Homo sapiens: one gene and its partners. The protein of the gene in region 1 interacts with the protein of each later gene in a biochemical or structural test. Each region holds a gene or a part of one and is shown in the gene's direction. Other genes may lie near its edges.

What was found.
Region 2: the proteins of CD244 (region 1) and INPP5D interact in a biophysical measurement, tested with the Homo sapiens proteins (2 studies listed by IntAct).
Region 3: the proteins of CD244 (region 1) and SH2D1A interact in a biophysical measurement, tested with the Homo sapiens proteins (2 studies listed by IntAct).

What each region holds. Positions count from the first base shown.
Region 1 is NC_000001.11:160,838,857-160,845,893, reverse strand, and holds part of CD244 (natural killer cell receptor 2B4 isoform 1 precursor), read left to right. Parts: intron 1-3,992; coding exon 3,993-4,310; intron 4,311-4,393; coding exon of another isoform or gene 4,394-4,408; coding exon 4,409-4,684; intron 4,685-6,844; coding exon 6,845-6,955; intron 6,956-7,037. UniProt on the Homo sapiens protein: Heterophilic receptor of the signaling lymphocytic activation molecule (SLAM) family; its ligand is CD48.
Region 2 is NC_000002.12:233,161,337-233,168,373, forward strand, and holds part of INPP5D (phosphatidylinositol 3,4,5-trisphosphate 5-phosphatase 1), read left to right. Parts: intron 1-387; coding exon 388-490; intron 491-2,370; coding exon 2,371-2,567; intron 2,568-2,970; coding exon 2,971-3,088; intron 3,089-7,037. UniProt on the Homo sapiens protein: Phosphatidylinositol (PtdIns) phosphatase that specifically hydrolyzes the 5-phosphate of phosphatidylinositol-3,4,5-trisphosphate (PtdIns(3,4,5)P3) to produce PtdIns(3,4)P2, thereby negatively regulating the PI3K (phosphoinositide 3-kinase) pathways.
Region 3 is NC_000023.11:124,363,558-124,370,594, forward strand, and holds part of SH2D1A (SH2 domain-containing protein 1A), read left to right. Parts: intron 1-2,203; coding exon 2,204-2,267; intron 2,268-6,618; coding exon 6,619-6,763; intron 6,764-7,037.

The sequences.
Region 1 (7,037 bases):
TTGTTCATTGGTTTGTTTTTTTTCTTTTTTTTTTTTTGAGACAGAGTTTCACTCTTGTTGCCCAGGTTGGAGTGCAGTGGCGTGATCTCGGCTCACTGCAACCTCCACCTCCTGGATTCAAGTGATTCTCCTGCCTCAGCCTCCCAAGTAGCTGGGATTACAGGTGTGCACCACCATACTTGGCTAATTTTTGCATTTTTAGCAGAGATGGGATTTTGTCATATTGGCCAGGCTGGTCTCAAACTCCTGACGTCAGGTGATCCATCCACCTGGGCCTCCCAAAGTGCTGGGATTACAGGCGTGAGCCACCGTGCCCAGCTTGTCGGTTTGTTTTGATCTTGCTTGGGGTTTGTAACACATTTTACAAATCTATCTTGATGGCTTTTGTCAGTTTTGGGAAATTCTTATCTTTTATCTCTTTTGCTTAGTTCCTCTTTCCTCTCTCGTCTCCTTGCTTTCCAATTACACTTAGTTTAGGGGTTTTGTTTTGTTTTTGCTATATCTCAAATATCTTTTACACTCCTTCTTGTGTATTTTTATCCTTTTGTTTTTCTTTACTTCACTCTGGATATTTTATAACAGTTTTCTAATTCTCTTTTCAATGGCATCTAAATGGCCTTTTTAACCTTTCAATTGAGTTTGTTTTACAGTTATTTTACATTTTATTTCTGTAATTTTCATTGAATTCTTTAAAAAAAATCCAATTTCAGGTAACTATTGCTGCATAATGACCTACTCCAAAATCCAGTAGTTTAAAACAACTACCTATTTAGTTAGTGATTCTGCTAGTTGGCAATTTGGGCTGGGCTCAGCTAGGTGGTTCTTTTGGTTTCCTCTTGCATCAGTCATGCATGTGTGGTCAGCTGCCAGACTGGCCACGGGTGGCTGATTCATTTATTTATTTTTTATTGTTTTTTGAGATTAGGTCTTGCTCTGTCATGCAGGCTAGAGTGCAGTGGCATGATATCTCGGCTCACTGCAAGCTCCATCTCCCGGGTTCAAGCAGTTCTCGTGCCTCAGACTCCCAAGTAGCTGGGGTTACAAGTGTGTGCCACCATGTCTGGCTAATTTTTGTATCGTTAGTAGAGACGAGGTTTTACCATGTTGGCCAGGGTGGTCTCGAACTCCCGACCTTGAGTGATCTGCCGGCCTTGGCCTCCCAAAGTGCTGGAATTACGGGCATGAGCCACCGCACCAGGCCAGGGCTAGCTGATTTAGAATGGCCTTAGCTGTGTTGGCTTATCTCTGTATCATGTGATATCTTATTCTCCAGCAGGCTATTTTAGGCTTGTTCACAGGTCAGCCAGATGAGGTTCCAAGAGAACAAGTAGAAATGTGCAATGCCTTTTCAGATCTAGGCTTAGAACTAGCAGAACATCATTTTTGCTGCGTTTCATCATGAAGACCAGCCCAGTTCCAAGAGACAGGGAAATGAACCCCATTTCTTGATAACAGAAGGAGCTGTAAAGTCACATTGCAAGGACATGGTATTTTTGCATTCTATCACGCTAGTTCTCTGCTGAAATTCTTAAACTTATGTTTTATTTCCTTGAACATATTAGACATGATTACTTTAAAGTTTATGACTGACAACTCTATTATGTAGATGCCCTGTTTGTTGGTTTCTGTTGTCTCTATTCTTCTGTTGGTTTTTGGAGATGTTTCCTTTTCTTATACTTCACTTTGGATATTGTGTATGAAACATTCTAGGAATAATTTAATGCTCTGGTTGATGTTATTTTCCTCTAGTCATAACTTATATTTGCCTCTAGTTGGCAGCCAGGTTAGGGCTACCAGAGATTCCAGATCATTAGTTCAATCCAGGGTTGTGATGATTCAAAATTGAGCTTCAGTTCCTGTGAGGGCTGTTCATTTCTCGTTCACTCTTACTCTTTGGGTATAGCCCTCTGTGGTACCAACCTCAACACTGATGGATTTTATGTATACCCGCTTTCTAATAGGAGGGACGTGAACTTCATGTTCTCTTAGTTCCTTGAGTTTTATTGTGAGCTCTGCTCAGCTTCTCAGCCTTTTAGCTGCCATTTATGGAATCAGAAGATGCCTCCAGGGAACAACAGTCAGAAATGCTGATCTCACCTCTCTGAATTTCCTTCTTCCAGATATTGGCCCCATAATTTTTCACTGCTTTATAAACTCTCTGATAACTTTAACAATGTGCTTTTACATGTTGTTCATTTTTCTTCTAGCTATTTTTAGTGGGAGGATTGGTTAGCATGTCTTAACCTGGATTTTCATTACATAATTAGAATTCCTTCGATGATTTTTTATCTCAACAATTAAGGGGATGCTGTAGAATGAAAGTGTTCTGTTTCCAGATCACAAACTCTCTGGAGTCAGGAATCATGCCTTATACATGAAGAGGCCCTGCCTCTTCAGGGGCTGGATTGCAGTGGGACTCAGTAAGGACTGAATAATTGATGAAGACAGTATATGTCCTCCTTGTAGGTTTAGTAATGATTTTTTCCATTCACCTTTGTTCTCAGGGTCTTTGTGCAATATTTGGTAGGTTGACTTGTTCTTATAAATAGTGCTAGGATCGTAGGAGACAGAGACACAGAGATGCACAGCACAGTCTCTGCTTTTGAGAAGCTTTTGGTTTGCTAATGGGCAGAGCCAGTACAAGTCATATAAATATAAATGGGAACCTATGTGTTTTAGTCTTAGGAGCATCAAGATCAAAGAAACATATTTCATCAAACAAATAGTATTACAAGTCCTTTAATTATTTACTTAGTCTCTTGAGAAAATGCCAGGGTGAAGCTGTGGCTTGGAGAGACTGCATTCATAATGCACTGGACATATAAAAACCCCTCTGTCTCAATTGCTCTCTTCTTAATAGCCTCCATTTTAACGGAGCCACTTGTAAAACTCTCCCCATCTCTTATTTTCTCTTCCAAATCCTCCCTGAGCCTCCCCAACTCACCCAGAGAGACTTTTTAATTTCCTGCACCTGCTGGGCCATGCCACATAGCTTTATTACTAAAAATGGCTGTAGGAACTTCCAGTTTTGTACACTGACTGCACAGAATTGCTCTAGGTTGTCACACCCCCATATTCATTAGGTTTCATCTTGATTCTTTGAGAGGCAAGTGCTGGGATCTGCCTGGGAAGTGTAGTTTTATTTTTAAAATTGTTTTCTAGGGAGAAATTTTTGTGGAGACTTTCTGATCACTGAAAAACTGGCAAACATCAATAAGTAATGACCAAAATCCAATGAACCAAGTGCCACGAGAGAGGATTATGTATTCAGCTCTGTGAGAGGATGGTTGAGGGGCCATGAGTTCAGCTTGGACGGTTAGTCTTCCTGGGCCTGACCATTCAGAATTTCCAACAGTCACTACTTGCCATTAGTAGTTGCCTCAGCACTGCTTGGAGGGAGTCACCTTAGATGTGGTATTTATAGCATCATGGTTAAGAATTTATCCTCTCAAGCCAAACTGCTGTCTTTACAAAGAGTAAACAAATAAGCTCCCTAGCACCTGTGCTCCCAGCTACTAGGGAGGTTGAGATGGGAGGATCACCTCAAGCCCAGGAGTTCAAGGCTGCAGTGAGCTGTGATTGCGCCACTGCACTCCAGCCTGGGTGACAGAGTGAGACCCTGTCTCTAGAAAACAAAACAAAAGAAAACAAAAACATAACACCAAACTGACTAGGTTTCAGGCTCATCATTCTTTTAACTCATCATACCTTTTAACTTAAATAGTTAAAATGTATAAAGTGTGAAACCTGCCTGTCACATAGTAAGTACTCAAGATTTTAGCTATTGGTCTATGGGATCCCTCAGACTAGGGACACAGAGCTTGGGGACAAGGGGAGGCAGATGGAGGGGATATGCTTTAAGGTGCTCCTAGGTTCTGGGCTCCTCATACTCATCCCCACCCAATTGGCTTAAGGGAAGTCACATCCAGCTGCCCACATTGCTCAGGCCTGACACTCTTCCCGCTACTTTCAGCTTGGGTTCTCTTTCCTAGGATGCCAGGGATCAGCTGACCATGTGGTTAGCATCTCGGGAGTGCCTCTTCAGTTACAACCAAACAGCATACAGACGAAGGTTGACAGCATTGCATGGAAGAAGTTGCTGCCCTCACAAAATGGATTTCATCACATATTGAAGTGGGAGAATGGCTCTTTGCCTTCCAATACTTCCAATGATAGATTCAGTTTTATAGTCAAGAACTTGAGTCTTCTCATCAAGGCAGCTCAGCAGCAGGACAGTGGCCTCTACTGCCTGGAGGTCACCAGTATATCTGGAAAAGTTCAGACAGCCACGTTCCAGGTTTTTGTATTTGGTAAGTCTCCAGGACTGTTCATACTGCCCTCTCTGATTCCTATAGGCCTCTAAGTTCTGTATTTCCAATGCCTTTCTGATCAGAATCTCTGCTTCCAGATAAAGTTGAGAAACCCCGCCTACAGGGGCAGGGGAAGATCCTGGACAGAGGGAGATGCCAAGTGGCTCTGTCTTGCTTGGTCTCCAGGGATGGCAATGTGTCCTATGCTTGGTACAGAGGGAGCAAGCTGATCCAGACAGCAGGGAACCTCACCTACCTGGACGAGGAGGTTGACATTAATGGCACTCACACATATACCTGCAATGTCAGCAATCCTGTTAGCTGGGAAAGCCACACCCTGAATCTCACTCAGGACTGTCAGAATGCCCATCAGGGTAAGTGGAACACACTGGGCTATAACAAGCGCTGAAGGTTTGGACCCCGCAACCAGGCTCATGTGCAAGACAGATGTGGTATGAGATAAAATCCCTTGGCCTCCTCTCCCAGTGCCTTGTAGCCCTTCCCAGGGTAGCCCTGGCCTCCAGGCACACAGTTCCTGTAAAGCTAGGCCTATCCTACTCTGGAAAAAAATGTTATCCCTATTTCCTTCTGGGAGATGCAAGCTTTTCTTCTGCAGAGGGAGGGCATAGTTGTTTGGTGAGTGACAGTCCTGAAATGGCTCCTGAACATTATTTTCTTCCTGGGAGAGGCTGATGGAGAACTGTCCTCTCCTCTTGAGTGATAACTTTCTCCAAGCCACATAGTTCAAGAGGTAACTACACTGTGCAGCAGTAGCCTGGAGCAGGAGCATCAGGATGACCCCAGGGATACCTAGATGAGTTCTTGGGCTGTTGCTTATGCTCATCCTAAGAGTTACCTGAGTTACCGTTCCACAACTTTTTATTACATAAACAGGGACTTAATGTACCAGCAGCATGGGCATTATAGGAAAAAAAAACCATACAGCTCTCATTCATAAGGAACTTATAGCCAAATGGGGCAACAAAAATAACTACTTGTGGACAAAAAAGAAACAAGACTGAGGCAGGCCGGGCGCAGTGGCTCCCTGTAATCCCAGCACTTTGGGAGGCTGAGGTGGGTGGATCACAAGGTCAGGAGTTTGAGACCAGCCTGGCCAACATGGTGAAACCCTGTCTCTACTAAAAATACAAAAAATTAGCTGGGCGTGTTGGCGGGCACCTGTAATCTCAGCTACTCAGGAGGCTGAGGCAGGAGAATTGCTTGAACCCAGGAGGCGGAGGTTGCAGTGAGTCAAGATCATGCCACTGAACTAGGACACTGGCTTCATCATTCAGAAGCTCTGTGATCTCTTAGAGGTCAGGTGTGGTGGCTCACACATGTAATCCTAGCACTTTGGGAGGCTGAGGCAGGTGGATCACTTGAGTCCAGGTGTTTGAGACCAGCCTGGACAATATGGTGTAATCCCATCTCTATTTAAAAAAAAAAAAAAAAGAAGCTCTGTGATCTCTGGCAGATTCATTAACCTCTCTGAGCCTCAATTTTCTTCCCCCCTTGAGTAAAATGGGGGTGATAATAAGTACCTCACAGGATTGCTGTTAAGAGTAAATGAGATAATGTTTGCAAAGAGCCTTGTCAGCCCTTGGAACACTTAATTCCTTTTCCTTCCTCTTGTTGGCTGGATTATATATCAGGCTACATGTGTGACACAAATCTTTTAAGTAGAAGTTCAAATGAGGAAGAGCCATGAAGGAAGGAATAGTGGAAAAGTGAGACGGAAAACTTGCCTGTACAATGAGTATTTTTTGAGTTAAAAACAAAGGAATGGATAAATGTAACATTTGTTGTGCTACATGTCCCTCAGTATCCATGACGAATTAGTTCCAGGACCCACCTCGCAACCACAGATGCCAAGATCCACGAATGTTTAAGTCCCTGGCATAAACAGGTGCAGTTTTTGCATATAACCTATGCACACATCCTTCTGTATACCTTACTTAAGTCACCTCTAAATTAGTTATAATGCCTGATACAATGTAAATGCTATTTAAATAGTTGTTATACTGTATTGTTTAGGGAATAATGACAAGGAAAAAGGCCTCTACATATTCAATACACATGCATTTTTTTTCCCTGAATATTCTGGATCCACAATTCATTGAATCCACATTGTGGAACTCAAAACTTTGGAGGGCAACTGTATTAGATCATGTAATTAACCCCTATAGGTAGATAACGTTATCCCCTTTTACAGGTGAGAAAATCTAAGAGGCTCTGAGGCATCTTCCAAAAATAAGATGACTTGAGAGGCCCAGAGAGGTTAAATAAATAGTGCAGAGCTCACAGGGTTAGAATTTGAGCCAGGCCTGTCTGATATATCTATGCTCTTGGCATCACTCAGAGGAGGTTAACCAAATGAGCAAAGAGAAAACCTTGACCGTGAGTTCTCAGAGCACGAGGCAATCAGCCACAACACAGAGAAAAGTGGGTTTTGAGGCAGCCCCTGCAGCAGGCAGGTGGGAAGGAAGAAGAGAGCGAGCTGACAGCTCAGTTCTCACGCCTTCTGTATTCCTCAGAATTCAGATTTTGGCCGTTTTTGGTGATCATCGTGATTCTAAGCGCACTGTTCCTTGGCACCCTTGCCTGCTTCTGTGTGTGGAGGAGAAAGAGGAAGGAGAAGCAGTCAGGTGAGTGGAAGGTCCTTAGGGTGGTGCTCCTGCCTGAGGCCTTGGATCCTGTGACTTTGTCCTGCGTCCAGTGGGATGTGTC
Region 2 (7,037 bases), on another chromosome or scaffold:
CCACCTCGGCCTCCCAAAGTGCTGGGATTACAGGCATGAGCCACCACACCTGGCCCTCTGATACATTATTAATGAATCTCCTAAGGCTGGACAGTAAGGTTGCTTCTGATTTTTTTCTGTGCTGAGGCCTGTGCTGCAGAGCCGTGACAGGGTTGGACTTCTGCGCAGCTCCTGATCACTTTGTTAAAGTCGCACCTTTGCAGGGGAGTGTCTAGGCCAGAAGCCACTCGCTTATGACTTTGGACACATGTTTCCAGGTTGCTGTCCTGGAAGTTCACACTGATTTACGCTCCTCTCAGTTTTCTTGAAGCTGACCAAGTCCTTTGCAAAGTGTAATGTGCAGGGAGGCAGAGGCCTTTCTAAGTCTGTCTGCCCTTCCATCCCTAGAAGAGAGAAGGCTTCTGCCAGCTCCTGCAGCAGATGAAGAACAAGCACTCAGAGCAGCCGGAGCCCGACATGATCACCATCTTCATCGGCACCTGGAACATGGGTGGGTCCGCGCGCCCCCTCCCTGCAGTCACCCCCTCTGCTTCTGCTTTCCTGACTCAGGCATCCTCAAGGTGGGGTGGAGTGACGACATCCATGTCCCCTTCCTTCCTGCCCCAGGGCCCTGCCCCTAAGCCCCAGCCCACCCGCACAACCTCCTTCCTGAGGAATTCCACCCTTTTCCTGAGATGATGGGTAAGAAAAACGAGCTTTGGGACTATCGTACCCCAAGAGCAGCTGGCGTGGGTTACTCTGTATGTCTAAATTGGAAAGTTTTAGGGAAAGAGTCTGAATATCTAGGTGAAGGGGCTCATGGGAACCCTGCCAGCCCTAGGCAGCTCACCAAGGGGCCCCAGGCCTGAGAGAAAGAAGTCCACCCTGAGTAGGGTTGCCAGATTTATCAGGAGAGAGACAGAGAGAGACAGAGAGATAGGTACGTAGACAAAGGATGCCCAGTTAAATTTTAACTTCATAGAAACAATTTTTTTTAGTATATGTTTAGCTACAAACAAATAAATACTAAATATATATGCTCATAGACATTATGCTGAATATATAGTATATATACATATGCTAAATAAGTGTAATTATTATATTAAATATGAATTATACTAAGTAATATTAGTTTAAGCATACAGCTAATAATATACTAAATATATGCTAAATATATTTTGTATTAAACATATATATTGTGTATTTACTAAACACATGCACTCTACTAAATATAAATAATACTAAATAATTTTTTAGTGTAAGTGTTCAGGTAGAAATAAATTAGATAGAAGACATCCAGATAAACTTATTCTAAAAACTACCAGTTTATCTGAAATTGGAATTTCACTGGGTGTCGTGTGTCCCCTACCCTTGTCCTGAGAGGAGTCTGGGAGGAAGAGGGTGAGCAGTGGCTGGCAGGGGCCTCCTGGAAGTGAAGTGACAGCTTGTCACTCGTGTCCCAGGGCCACAGCAGCCGTGGAGTAGAGCCCGGGCCAGTGCCCCAGGGGGTCACTTGTCCCCTTCGGTCCCTTTCAGTGTTTCTAATAAGAGACAATAGTCTGCCTGATCTCCTCCCTCTGGACATGGTCAGGGATGTCCATGACACAAGGGCAGGGGTGCCCTTCCCACAGAAGAGTATGGAAGGAGCCAGCTGAGGCCATGCCGCAGGAGGGCCGGGGACCCACCAGCCCGGGGGTTCGGGCACCCACTTTGAGCCTCTTGGGGGAGCAGAATTTAGCCACAGTCCATTTACTCCAATGCTTGGCTTCTTTGCACTTGTAAGGCAAGAAGCTCATCTCTTTGAGGAACAAAGTTTGCTCATCCTTCAAGGGCATTGTAGGGAGAACCGTTCAAAATTTCTTGATTGAGCTTCTTCAACTCAGTTTTGAAATGGGAATGCGGAGGAGTTTCCACACTCTCCCGTTTCTCTGGCTCACACCCAGGCATCCCTCCGCTCTGGGCTGGGATCTGTCTTGCAAGGGAGACTTTGTTGTCTCCCAACAATGGGTTAGAACCCGCCATCTAAAACTTGTCAGTTCCCTTGGCTGTCTTGAGAATAGGATGTGAGTTCCTTGAGGGACAGGACTGTGTCTCAATTATCGTAGCCTCAAAGTGCAGGACAGTGTCTGACATCAGGGAATCTTCTGGTGTTTCTATACCTTGAAACTTGACATTACGTTTAAAAAGAGGCTTAACTGAGCTCTAGCCCTAACCGACATCCTGGGTGAGGTTGGCGCCCAGGCCTCCATTGCAGGCATTTCTTTGGGCTGCCTGGATGGTCTTGTGTAATGACGTGACCTCCCTCACACTCCCGCCCTCTGTTTTGAATTCTCCTAATGCTTTGACTCGATGTGCCTTTGACTCACTTGGTGTTGGGTTTTGCTGTTGAAGGTAACGCCCCCCCTCCCAAGAAGATCACGTCCTGGTTTCTCTCCAAGGGGCAGGGAAAGACGCGGGACGACTCTGCGGACTACATCCCCCATGACATTTACGTGATCGGCACCCAAGAGGACCCCCTGAGTGAGAAGGAGTGGCTGGAGATCCTCAAACACTCCCTGCAAGAAATCACCAGTGTGACTTTTAAAACAGTGAGCAGCTGGCTGCACGCTGGGTGGGCTTCCGGGATAGAATCTTTGCTCGGCTGGGCTGTCTCAGAGGCAAGGGTGGGCTCAGCCTATCAGCTCTCAGTTTTCAAGGATGTCTGGAGGCCCCCACTGAGAGATGCGTCTGTATTCAGAAATAAATGGGATCTGTGGGGTATTGCTGAAAACCACTGAGTCCTCTATCTTCCCACCCTTGGTCAGCCCCGGTTCTCATCTTTAGGATGTTTTGTCTCGCCTATCAAGCATCGCTGGGAGTCCCCCGAAGGGTTGGGATTACAGACAGGATACCCCATACCCAGGGGCTGCGGCTGGGGCTGGGTGTGAATCACTGTGCCCTGGTTCACACCCTACACTTGGGCCGAGTATTGCAACGTTGTCCTCCCACCAGGTCGCCATCCACACGCTCTGGAACATCCGCATCGTGGTGCTGGCCAAGCCTGAGCACGAGAACCGGATCAGCCACATCTGTACTGACAACGTGAAGACAGGCATTGCAAACACACTGGGTGAGCAGGGCGGGGACCCTGTGTTCCTCCCACACCCTCTGCCTCAACTCTCGCGACCACATCATCCTGATCCCACCAGTAGTTCCCCGGGTTAAAAACAGAGAGCCTCACATCCTCAGATCCTGGCTCAGTCCTCAGCAAATAGGGGTGATTGGTCTCCCTGGCTGAAACTCACTCAGGGTCTACACCAGCAGTCCCAGGGATCTAGCTAAAATGCAGGTTCCGACCCAGTAGATCTTGGGTGGAGCTCAGGGTTCCAAGTTTCTGACAGGTTCCCAGGCGACTTGAGCGCTGCTGGTCGGCCCGTGGGACCCATTTTAAGAAGCAAGAACCTAGAAGAGGCATTGGCCAACTTTTGCAGGAAAGGGAAGGGCCTGACAGTAAATATTTCAGGCTTTGCAGGCCACTCAACACTATTCCTCTCTGCCTTTCTGGTGGGAAAGCAGCCATAGGCAACCCAGAAAGCGAATGGGAGTGACTGTGTTACCAGTGAGACCTTCCTTACAAGCACAGGCGGGAGGTGGCTGGCCCCTGCCCTCGGTCCCTGTGCACCAGGTTGGATCTGGAAACGCTGGTGTCAGTGGAGAGTTGCTGGCTTCAGAGAGCAGTAACAAGGGCAAGAAGTCTTCATAAGTGTAGGAGTGCAAGCCTGTGTGTTTGTGTAGGATGTGTGTGTGAGTAGGTCTGTGTATGTGAGTTTGTGTGAGTGACAGCGTGCATGTGAGTGTGTGAGCCTGTGTAGGTGTGTGAGAGTTTATGGATGTGTGTTTGTGAGCATGTTTATGTGAGTCAATGTGTGAGCGTACCACCCCATATCTATGAGTGTGTGTCTATATGTGTGTGAATCTATGCATGTGTTTGAGTGTGTCTATGTGAGTCTATGTATGTGAGTCCGTGTATGAGTGTACCACCCATATCTATGTGTGTGAGTGTCTGTATGTGTGAGTCCATGCATGTGTGTTTGTGTGTGTTTATGTGAGTCTACATATGTGAGTCCGTGTGTGAGTGTACCACCCCGTATCTATGAGTGTGTGTGTGTCCATGCATGTGTTTGTGAGTGTATTTATGTGAGTCTATGTATGTGAGTCCGTGTGTGTGTACCACTCCATATCTATGAGTGTGTGAGTGTCTATGTGTGTGTGTCCATGCATGTGTGTTTGTGAGTGTGTGTTTATGTGCATCTGTGTGTGAGTGTACCACCCCGTATCTATGAGTGTGTGAGAGTCCATGCATGTGTTTGTGAGTGTGTTTATGTGAGTCTATGTATGTGAGTCCATGTATGAGTGTACCACCCCATATCTATGAGTGTGTGAGTATCTGTGAGTCCATGTGTCTGTGTTTGTGAGTGTGTGTTTATGAGAGTCTAGGTATGTGAGGGTGGGTGTCCGAGTGCATGTGCATAAGTGCTAGAGCCTCTCTGTGTGTTTGTGTGTGTGTGTGTGTGTGCCCGTGTGTGCACGTGGGGTGGTATACACACAGGGCTCCAGGGCTGGCATCAGGGGCGAGGCCAGTGGTTTTTGGTGGTTGGAGTCAGTGGAGTCAGGAACAGGACAGAGTCCCAGAGATAACAGGAAATAGAAGAATTGCTGCAATCGAACGTGCAAAGCTCTCTCAACTTTTCTGCTGACAAACCGCAAACTGCCCGCGTCCACCCCCACTCGTCCCCCTTCCTTCCTGCCACAGTAGAAGGGTGGGGCTGGCGTGGCTATCCTGGCTGCGCCCACGCCCTCCTGCTGCCCAGCAACCGCCCCGGGTGTGGATTCCATCGCTCCCTGGGCTTCCAGTCCCTCCCACCAGCCCCTGCCCCGCTGTGCAGAATATGCTCGGACCTCCTAGGGCCACATAAAACCACCCCCTCAGCCAGACCAGTTCCTGGTCATCCTGGCCTCAGGGCTGGGCACTGGGTCAGCTTCTGAGCAGGCAGGAGCTCTGCTCATGTGGACCTGACACACATTGCATGAGCAGACGGGAGGAAAAGAAGCCAGTTCCTGGGAGGGAGTGCACTGGCGAAGGAGTGTGTGGCGTGGGCAGAGAGCAGAGGTCAGGGGCCTCCCTGAGAAGGGCAGTGCGACTGGCATCTGAGGGGTGAGGAGAAAGGCCTGGCCAGAGTCCCAGCTTTATGACCATTGCAGGGCAGCTTCTGGGCTGTGCAGCTCACACACACCTTCCCCTCCTTCCCCTCCTTCCCCTCCTCTCTGCCCTGGGGCCAGCCTCCCTCCTCCACTCCCCTGAAATGGCTCCCAGCCATAATTAGCACAGGACAGAAACAGCAAATGCTGGTCGGTGTGGTAGGCTCACGCCTGTAATCCCAGCACTTTGGAAGGCCGAGGCCGGTGGATCACTTGAAGTCAGGAGTTCGAGACCAGCCTGGCCAACATGGTGAAATCCCATCCCACTAAAAATACAAAAATTAGTTGGATGTGGTGGTGCGCACCTGTAATCCCAGCTGCTTGGGAGGCTGAGGCAGGAGAATCGCTTGAACCCGAGAGGTGGAGGTTGCAGTGAGCTGAGATCATGCCACTGCACTCCAGCCTGGGTGACAGAGCGAGACTCTATCTCAAAAAAAAAAAAAAGTCCTTAGAACAACCAAGGCCTTTCTAAGAGTGTGCCCTAAGCAAGGCTGTGTGCTGAATGCTTTGAATCATCTCATTTGATATAAACACCCTGCTAGGCACGATGGCTCATGCCTATAATCCCACACTTTGGGAGGCCAAGGTGGGAGGACCTCCTGAGACCGGGAGTTTGAGACCAGCCTGGGCAACATAGGAAGGTACCATTTCTACAAAAAAAAAAAAAAAAAAAATGGCATAGTAGTGCATGCCTGTGGGCCCAGCTACTCAGGAGGCTGAGGTGGGAGGATCACTTAAATCTGGGAGGTCAAGGCTACAGAAAGCCATGATTTTGCCACTGCACTCCAGCCTGGGCGACACAGACTTTGTCTCAAATTAGAAAAAAAAATACAAACACTCGGGCAGGGACTCTTATTATTCCCATTTGCAGATGAAGAAACAGAGTCTATGGAGATGATCCATAACTTGCCCAAGGCCCCGGGATAAGAATGTGGTGGGCAGGGATTGAAACCAGGCTGTCGGGACTGGAACCAGTTGCTCAGTTCCAGGTCACCCTCCCAGGTTGCGGGCAGAGGGGCAGGGCTGGAGAGCTAGGTGCAGTGGAGAGGGCTGGAGGGCAGAAAGCCTGTGTACTCCCCCACTGGGTCCTGACAAGGTTGAGCCAGGTGATATCCAGGGGTCCCTTCAGCCTATGGCCTATCCAGAGCTGTCCAACCAAAAGAAAATGGGGCCGGGTGCCGTGGCTCACGCCTGTAATCCTAGCACTTTGGGAGGCTGAGGCAGGCAGATTGCCAGAGCTCAGTAGTTTGAGACCAACCTGGGCAACACGGTGAAACCTCGTCTCTACTAAAATACAAAAAATTAGCTGGGTGTGGTGGTGGGTGCCTGTAGTCCCAGCTACTCCTGAGGCAGAGACAGGAGAATTGCTTGAACCTGGGAGACGGAGGTTGCAGTAAGCAGAGATCGCGCCACTGCACTCCAGCCTGGGAGACAGAGTGAGACTCTGTCTCCAAAAAAAAAAAAAAAAAAAAGAAAGAAAGGAAGAAAAGAAAATGATGGGAGCCAAATAGATCATAAATAAATAGATTTATGATCAAAATAGATTACAATTTGATTTATTACAATCAATAGATCAAATTTTCTAGTAGCCACATTAAAAAGAAAACAAGTGAAATTAATTTCAATAATAGATTTTATTGAATTTCATACATCCAAAATACAATTATTTCAATAGATATTTAATGTAAAAGGTTATTAGATATTTTACAGTCTGTGTTTCTTACCAAGGCCACAATTCCAATGTGTATTTTACACTCACAACCTGTCTCATTTTGTACCAGCCACATTTCAGGTGTTTGATAGTCACATGTGGCCTGTGC
Region 3 (7,037 bases), on another chromosome or scaffold:
GACACTGGTATAAACAAACCGACTGTGCTGTCAGCTGTATAATAGTATAGCACAGGCCAGGTGTGATGGCTCGCACCTATAATCCCAGCACTGTGGGAGGCTGAGGTGGGTGGATCACCTGAGGTCAGGAGTTCAAGACCAGCCTGACCAATATGGTGAAATTCTGTCTCTACTAAAAATACAAAAATTAGCCAGCCATGGTGGCATGCACCTGTAGCCTCAGCTACTCGGGAGGCTGAAACAGAATTGCTTGAACCCGGGAGGCGGAGGTTGCAGTGAGCTGAGATTGCACCACTGCACTCCAGCCTGGGCAACAGAGCGAGACTCTATCTCAAAAAAAAAAAAAAAAAAAAAAAAAAGAAAGAAAAAGAAAAAGAAAAAAATGTATAGCACAGACAATTACATACAGTACACAATACTTGATAATGATAACAAATTACTGTGTTACTGGTTTATGTATTTACTGTACTATACATTTTATCATTATTTTAAAATCTACTCCTACTTATATAAAAAAAAGTTAGCTGTAAAACAGCCTCGGGCAGGTCCCTCAGGAGGTATTCCAGAAGGCATTCTGGAATATGAATATCATAGGAGATGACAGCTCCGTGTGTGTGACTGCACCTGAAGATCCTGCAGTGGGATAAGATGTGGAGGTGGAAGACAGTGATACTGATGATCCTGACCCTCTCTGTAGGCCTAGGCTAATGTGCGTATTTGTGTTTTAGTTTTTAACAAAAAAGTTTAAATAGCAAAGAATACATAAAATAAAAATTTTGAAACAGAGAAAAGCTTATGGAATAAGGATATAAAGAAAAACAGTTTTGTACAGCTGTACAATGTGTTTGTGTTTTAAGCGAAGTGTTATAAAAGAGTCAAAAAGTTTAAAAAAATTTACAAGTTTATAAAGTAAAAGAGTTGAAGCTAAGATTAATTTATTATTGAAGCGATACAGTTTTTTTTTTTTGAGACAATCTCGCTCCGTCACCCAGGCTGGAGTGCAGTGGCGTGATCTCGTCTCACTGCAACCTCCGCCTCCTGAGTTCAAGCGATTCTCCTGCCTCAGTGCCTCAGCCTCCCAAGTAGCTGGGACTACAGGTGCGTGCCACCATGCCTGGCTAAGTTTTTGTATTTTTAGTAGAGATGGGGTTTCGTTGTGTTAACCAGGATGGTCTCGATCTCCTGACCTCGTGATCTGGGAAATATAAATATTTTAAAATAAATTTAGTGTAGCCTAAGTTTACAGTGTTCATAACATTCTAGTAGTGTAATGTCCTAGGCCTTCACATTCACTCACCACTCACTCATTGACTCACCCAGAGCAATTTCCAGTCCTGCAAGCTCCATTCATGGTAAGTACTCTCAACAGGTATAGCATTCTTTATCTTTTATACTATATTTTACTGTGCCTTTTCTATGTTTAGATAGGTTTAGATACACAAATACCATTATGTTACAATTGCATACAGTATTCTGTACAGTAACATGCTGTACAGGTTTGTAGCCTGGAGTAATAGGCTATACCACATAGCCTAGGTGGTATACCATATAGGTTTGTGTAAGTACAGTCTATGATGTTTGCACAACAACGAAATCACCTAATGATGCACTTCTCATAATGTATCCCCCTTGGTAAGTGATGCATGACTGTGGCAATATTATATTGCTATACATTATAATAGTAATTTTATAAAAATATAGTTATATTCAATTTATAGTATTATATCCTTATACTATTGCCATTATATTTATAACAAATATTATTAATATTAATAATTATTTATGTGGGCCTGATAGTGTATTATCCCAGTGAAATGTTTTCACCTTAAGTTTCGATATGTACTTAAAAATAAGTCTATTGTTTGTTAAAACTATCTAATAATTCATGGTTTTATCAATTACAACAGGTCCCTGTTGTAGTTTCTTTCTGTCCAAATGGTCTCTCAACTTGACAAATCTTTAGGAGCATGAATTTCCATATTTCAAAAAATGAAAAGATAAAGAAATCTCACTGGAAACTGTGGTTGGGCAGATACAATATGGAGACAAGTTAGATTCACTATGCTTTACTTCCTATGAATGCAATGACACCATATACGTGTGTCCTAGTATATGTGACATTTATATGTAATATTAAGCTCAAATTTAAAGTATCCATTGTTCTTTTGGAATCTTTCAGTAATGGAAGTTTATTCTTTCACAGGTATCACGGTTACATTTATACATACCGAGTGTCCCAGACAGAAACAGGTTCTTGGAGTGCTGAGGTATAGTTGTATTTATTTTTGCTTCTGGGGGTGTCAAGGAGGTATTTGAAATTTAGGCTGGTTTTATAAAAGAGCAAATTATACATTATTAAGTATTCATAAGGTTTAAATCTCTAAAGCTCCAATCCAAAATTGTTCATGGATCATTAAGAAAGCTTTAGAGAATTTTGGTCCCAGTCCTGTTTAGCCATCATTTTGCAGAGTTGTATGACTTTGGGAGAAAGATAAAAAAGTTGAAGAATTATGTCAAACTTTTAGTGACTATGTGAAATCTTAGCATATCAAAAGTAGGTAAAATAATTAAATGAACAATTATTTACCAAATGATACCAATATGAGTATTGGTATCGTGGGAGATTAAAAAACATGATGCTTATTTTCTAAGAGACTACAATATACTTGGGAAGTTATAACTTGAAATTAAACAGTTATGAGTGGAAGAAACTAGGCTTTGTCAACAGGTGAATCTGGGTTCCAGGTCTGGTCTCCCCTCCTCTCTGATAGGTCTATGATCTTGGGCAGGTTACTTGACTTTTCTGTGAGCCAGTTTCTTCATTTGTAAACGGAGCCTAAGAATCCTCCCTTATGCACAAGGCTCAATTTGAAAAGTAAATAAGATAACACACATAAAGAAGCTGTTTGCCACAAGGCCTGGCACACAGTGAGCCCTCAAAAAAGTGAACTCCTGAAAATTGCCACAACTCCTATTAATAACTCAATCTGTGCATTTAAAATTTTCTGAAGTCTAGACTTCAAGAAGTTAAAATAGCTCTCACGTTTACTGATTTATCAGTAAGTTGGAAAGTATAAATTACAGACCACAAATGTTTTGAACCACTGAGATGAATTAGGCCAAGTTTTCAAACACACTTTTGCTGTATTATGTAAGGATCATTAAAACTATAATACTAACTAAAGATAAAGTTATACCATTTCTAATTGAAACTATTTATACCTGTTTATTTAAAAAATTCTCTGTATCACTGCAGAGATGATTGAATAAGAAATTAAACTTTATTATGAAGAAAGTTATGTGTAAAATATACTGACAAACACACACACACACACACACACACACACACACACACACACACACGTTTGTATATTATTTCGCCAGAAATAGCTCTTCTCCCCAGAGAAATACCCTTCAGCTGCTGAAGAATATTATGTAAGGAAAGGATCTTAAATGCTTAGGGTTTAACAACTTTGTTTTTCAACTTGTTTTCCTGCATTTTGAGTATAACATCATATGAGATTGTTACATGCTTGTGATCATGTTAAAGAAGAGAGGGCTTATTGAACACAAATGCCCCCTCATCCTGTTGTCTGATCTGACGTTGTTTATGTAATAATATTGTAATTTTCTGCACCAAGAGAGCAGAAGATTGGCATGACATCCGCAAATAGAAAATAGTTTAAAAAATTCTTTAATTTTTGAAATGCATATTGCATTTTTTTCTATCTACTAAATTTACCTTCTTAGCAGTGCTTTTCTAAGGTGAAAATTAAACTAGTGTATATTCTCAGAGCTCATACCACCTGACTGGAAAAAATTTCTCTAGAGCATATTGAAGACCAGCTGTGATCTAATACATGTTTCCATGGATAACTAAGAGGTGACAGTATGGGAGATTTGCAAATTTGAAGAATAGCTGAGTTCAGTGACAGGATGAGAGTTGTCAGTGGTACAATTCTTGTGATAAATGTATTTTCGAAACTGGGTAAATGATAGATATTAATACTGATTTTTGGAACAATGTTTTAGTTTGCCATGCTGCAGGAAAAATCAAGGCAGTAGCATGCCACCATCTGTGCATATATTATGCTAGAAATCTAGGTAAGTGAGATTTGTTTTAAAGAGTGTAATGAAATCAAACCCTGGCCCCACTGAATTATGAAAGACAGATATCATGTGTTTTTCTAGTTTTAGAGAGACTTTTAGGTTAAATCTTTGCCTAGTGTATTATCTTATATGACTCAGACTAAAAGTTTGTTACATTGTTAATTTAGATAATTCCACAATCTACTTTCATTTATTAATATGTGATTTGTTGGCAATACATTATTAAAAATGTACTGACATCACCCTGTTGACATCAGTGTCTTCAGGCTTTACTGGGTATATGATCAGGAGATCAGCAGATGTTAAATAATTGTCCTTATTAATCTAAGTAAAACACTGTAAAATAGGCCAGTCATTTGCTTATGAAACATCAGATCCCCAATTCAAATAGCTTCCATACTTCCAGTGCTATTATTCATTTCTGTTAGCATGGATAATCAAGTGTTAGCTACATATCAGTACCCATAAAAATGTTGCTTCTCTGTTTTGTTTTGTTTTGAGACAGAGTCTCACTCTGTCGCTCAGGCTGGAGTGGTGGAATGGCCCGATCTCGGCTCACTGTAACCTCTGCCTCCCAGGTTCAAGTGAGTCCTGTGCCTCAGCTTCCCAAGTAGCCGGGATTGCCACCACACCTGGCTAATTTTCATATTTTTAGTAAAGCCAGGCTTTCACCATGTTGCCCAGGCTGGTCTTGAACTCCTGACTTCAGGTGGTCCGCCGGTCTCAGCCTCCCAAAATGCTGGGATTACAGGTGTGAGCCACTGTGCCCGGCTATGCTTCTGTTGATAAATGACTTTACAAGCCACAAGAAGCTAAAAAGATGTGTGGTTTGAAATCTTTCCACACTTTAGGTGTGTATAGTTTTTCTTCTGTTTGATGACCCTAGCTTCGCTAGATCCTGTTTGGCCCAGTTCTAATCTGAAAGGCAAGAGACTGGGTCCTGGGATTCTGAGCCAGTTCTGCCTCTGGTTGTCTGTGTGACTTTGGGCAAGCTGATTAATTTCTTTGCATTCATATTTTCTTATCTGTCAAATGGGAATAACTGAATCAGCCAATAACTGCCATTTTGTGAGGAAATAGTGAAGGCAAGAGATAGGAATGTGCTTTGAAAATGAAAAAGTGCACTGAGGAAAGTATAAGGAGGCAATTTGTGCCTATGACCTGCATTTGCAATTTGGAGACTCTATCTTGGAACCAACGAACTGTTTGGACTTCTGCAAGAATGGCCATGTTATTTTGGATGAGTTCTCAATCGAGCTTTAGGAAGGTGGAGGGTAGGTGAGAGAGTGGGGTGGAGCTGGGTGAGAGAGTGTTCTACATCTACTGTGAACATATGGGGGAACACTAATATAGAGCTAAAAAGAATTTTTGTCATGTTTTCAATGAAAAATTACCCCAACATAAGGAAATGACTGAGAGTTACTATGGATAGTGTAGTATGCTATCTTCAGCATACCACTATCTAGCTGACAGAAGTCTTCATGCTCGCCTTCATGTTTTCTCATTAAATGCTAAAAAAACAAACAGCTCCCACCTCAAAAATCTACCAGATGGAATAGCTGAAAAACAACTTAAAAAAAAAACTAGTCATTGTTCAATTGCTCATAGCAATACTATTTTATTTTACGTAAAATGACAGGTTTGAGCTGATGCCTGAAGCTTGGCTCATAAGCTTTTGCAGGAAATTGTTGTTGATTTCAGGCAGTGTCTTTGCAAGACAACTGATGTCAGGAAAGGAACACATTTTAATAGTCACCTGCAAATAACTGTCTCTTTAAAAACACACAAATAAATAAATAAAGGTGACCTTATATAGTCTTTCATTTTCATGTCATAGAGAAAACCTTGTTACAGTGACGTGCTGATGGAGAGAACAATTTTGGGAGTATAGGGAAGTTTCCCAAGGAGGAAAAAATTTAATGTGAAGAATGGCGCAGGAAATATTGTGAGGTGAAAGAGTATGAGGACTGAACTAGCCGTGCACTGTGTGCATCATAACAGCCAATTTTTAATTTCCTGTGTAGCATTTTATATTGTGGGATGATGGCAGGGAGGATGGGTTGTTGGTTTTTCTTTTGTTGTTGTTCCTCAGGCTTTTTATTAATGACCTGTAGGATCTGTTTTTTTGTTTTTGTTTTTGTTTTTTCCTGTTTAACTGCATCCCCTCTGTTGGTGAATTCATTGTGGGTAATGGCCTGTATACCCTTAGAGGTTTGAGATGTCTGATGGGGAGCAGGCAGGAAGGGCAGGGCAATGAGCAAGAGCTTGTACAAACTAATACCACCTTTGGGAGAACTGAAATGACAGCTCATTAGCTCCTCTTGCAGGGAAATTCAGCCAACCAAAGTAAGCTCTTCTGGAATGTTGTTTTTCCTTCTTCCTTATGTTTTCAAATATTTCAACAAGTTACACAAATGTTACTTCTCTTAGCATCCCTAGCACATTTTGTAGGTCTTTTTGTATCATTATGAGATAGGTAAATAATTTGCTTGGCCTTTTATTTTCCAGACAGCACCTGGGGTACATAAAAGATATTTCCGGAAAATAAAAAATCTCATTTCAGCATTTCAGAAGCCAGATCAAGGCATTGTAATACCTCTGCAGTATCCAGTTGAGAAGAAGTCCTCAGCTAGAAGTACACAAGGTACTACAGGTATGATTTCCTCTTAATTTTTGACAGGGTTTGGAAGCTCAGAGTTATGAGTCAACCTGTTCATAACCATATAATCAATTAGAAGTTATGTAAGAAAAATGCAGTGAGAAAGTAGATGTAGCCAGCAAGTCAAATGAGAGGTGACAATTTATGTGCTATAATTTTCATCTATTATTCTAATAACTTTTAATAAATCTCTGTAAAAACATCAAAAATTCTATAAGCCCATAACATTTTAACTGCTCTTGTCTGTCTCATCTTGTTCTTTCCTGTC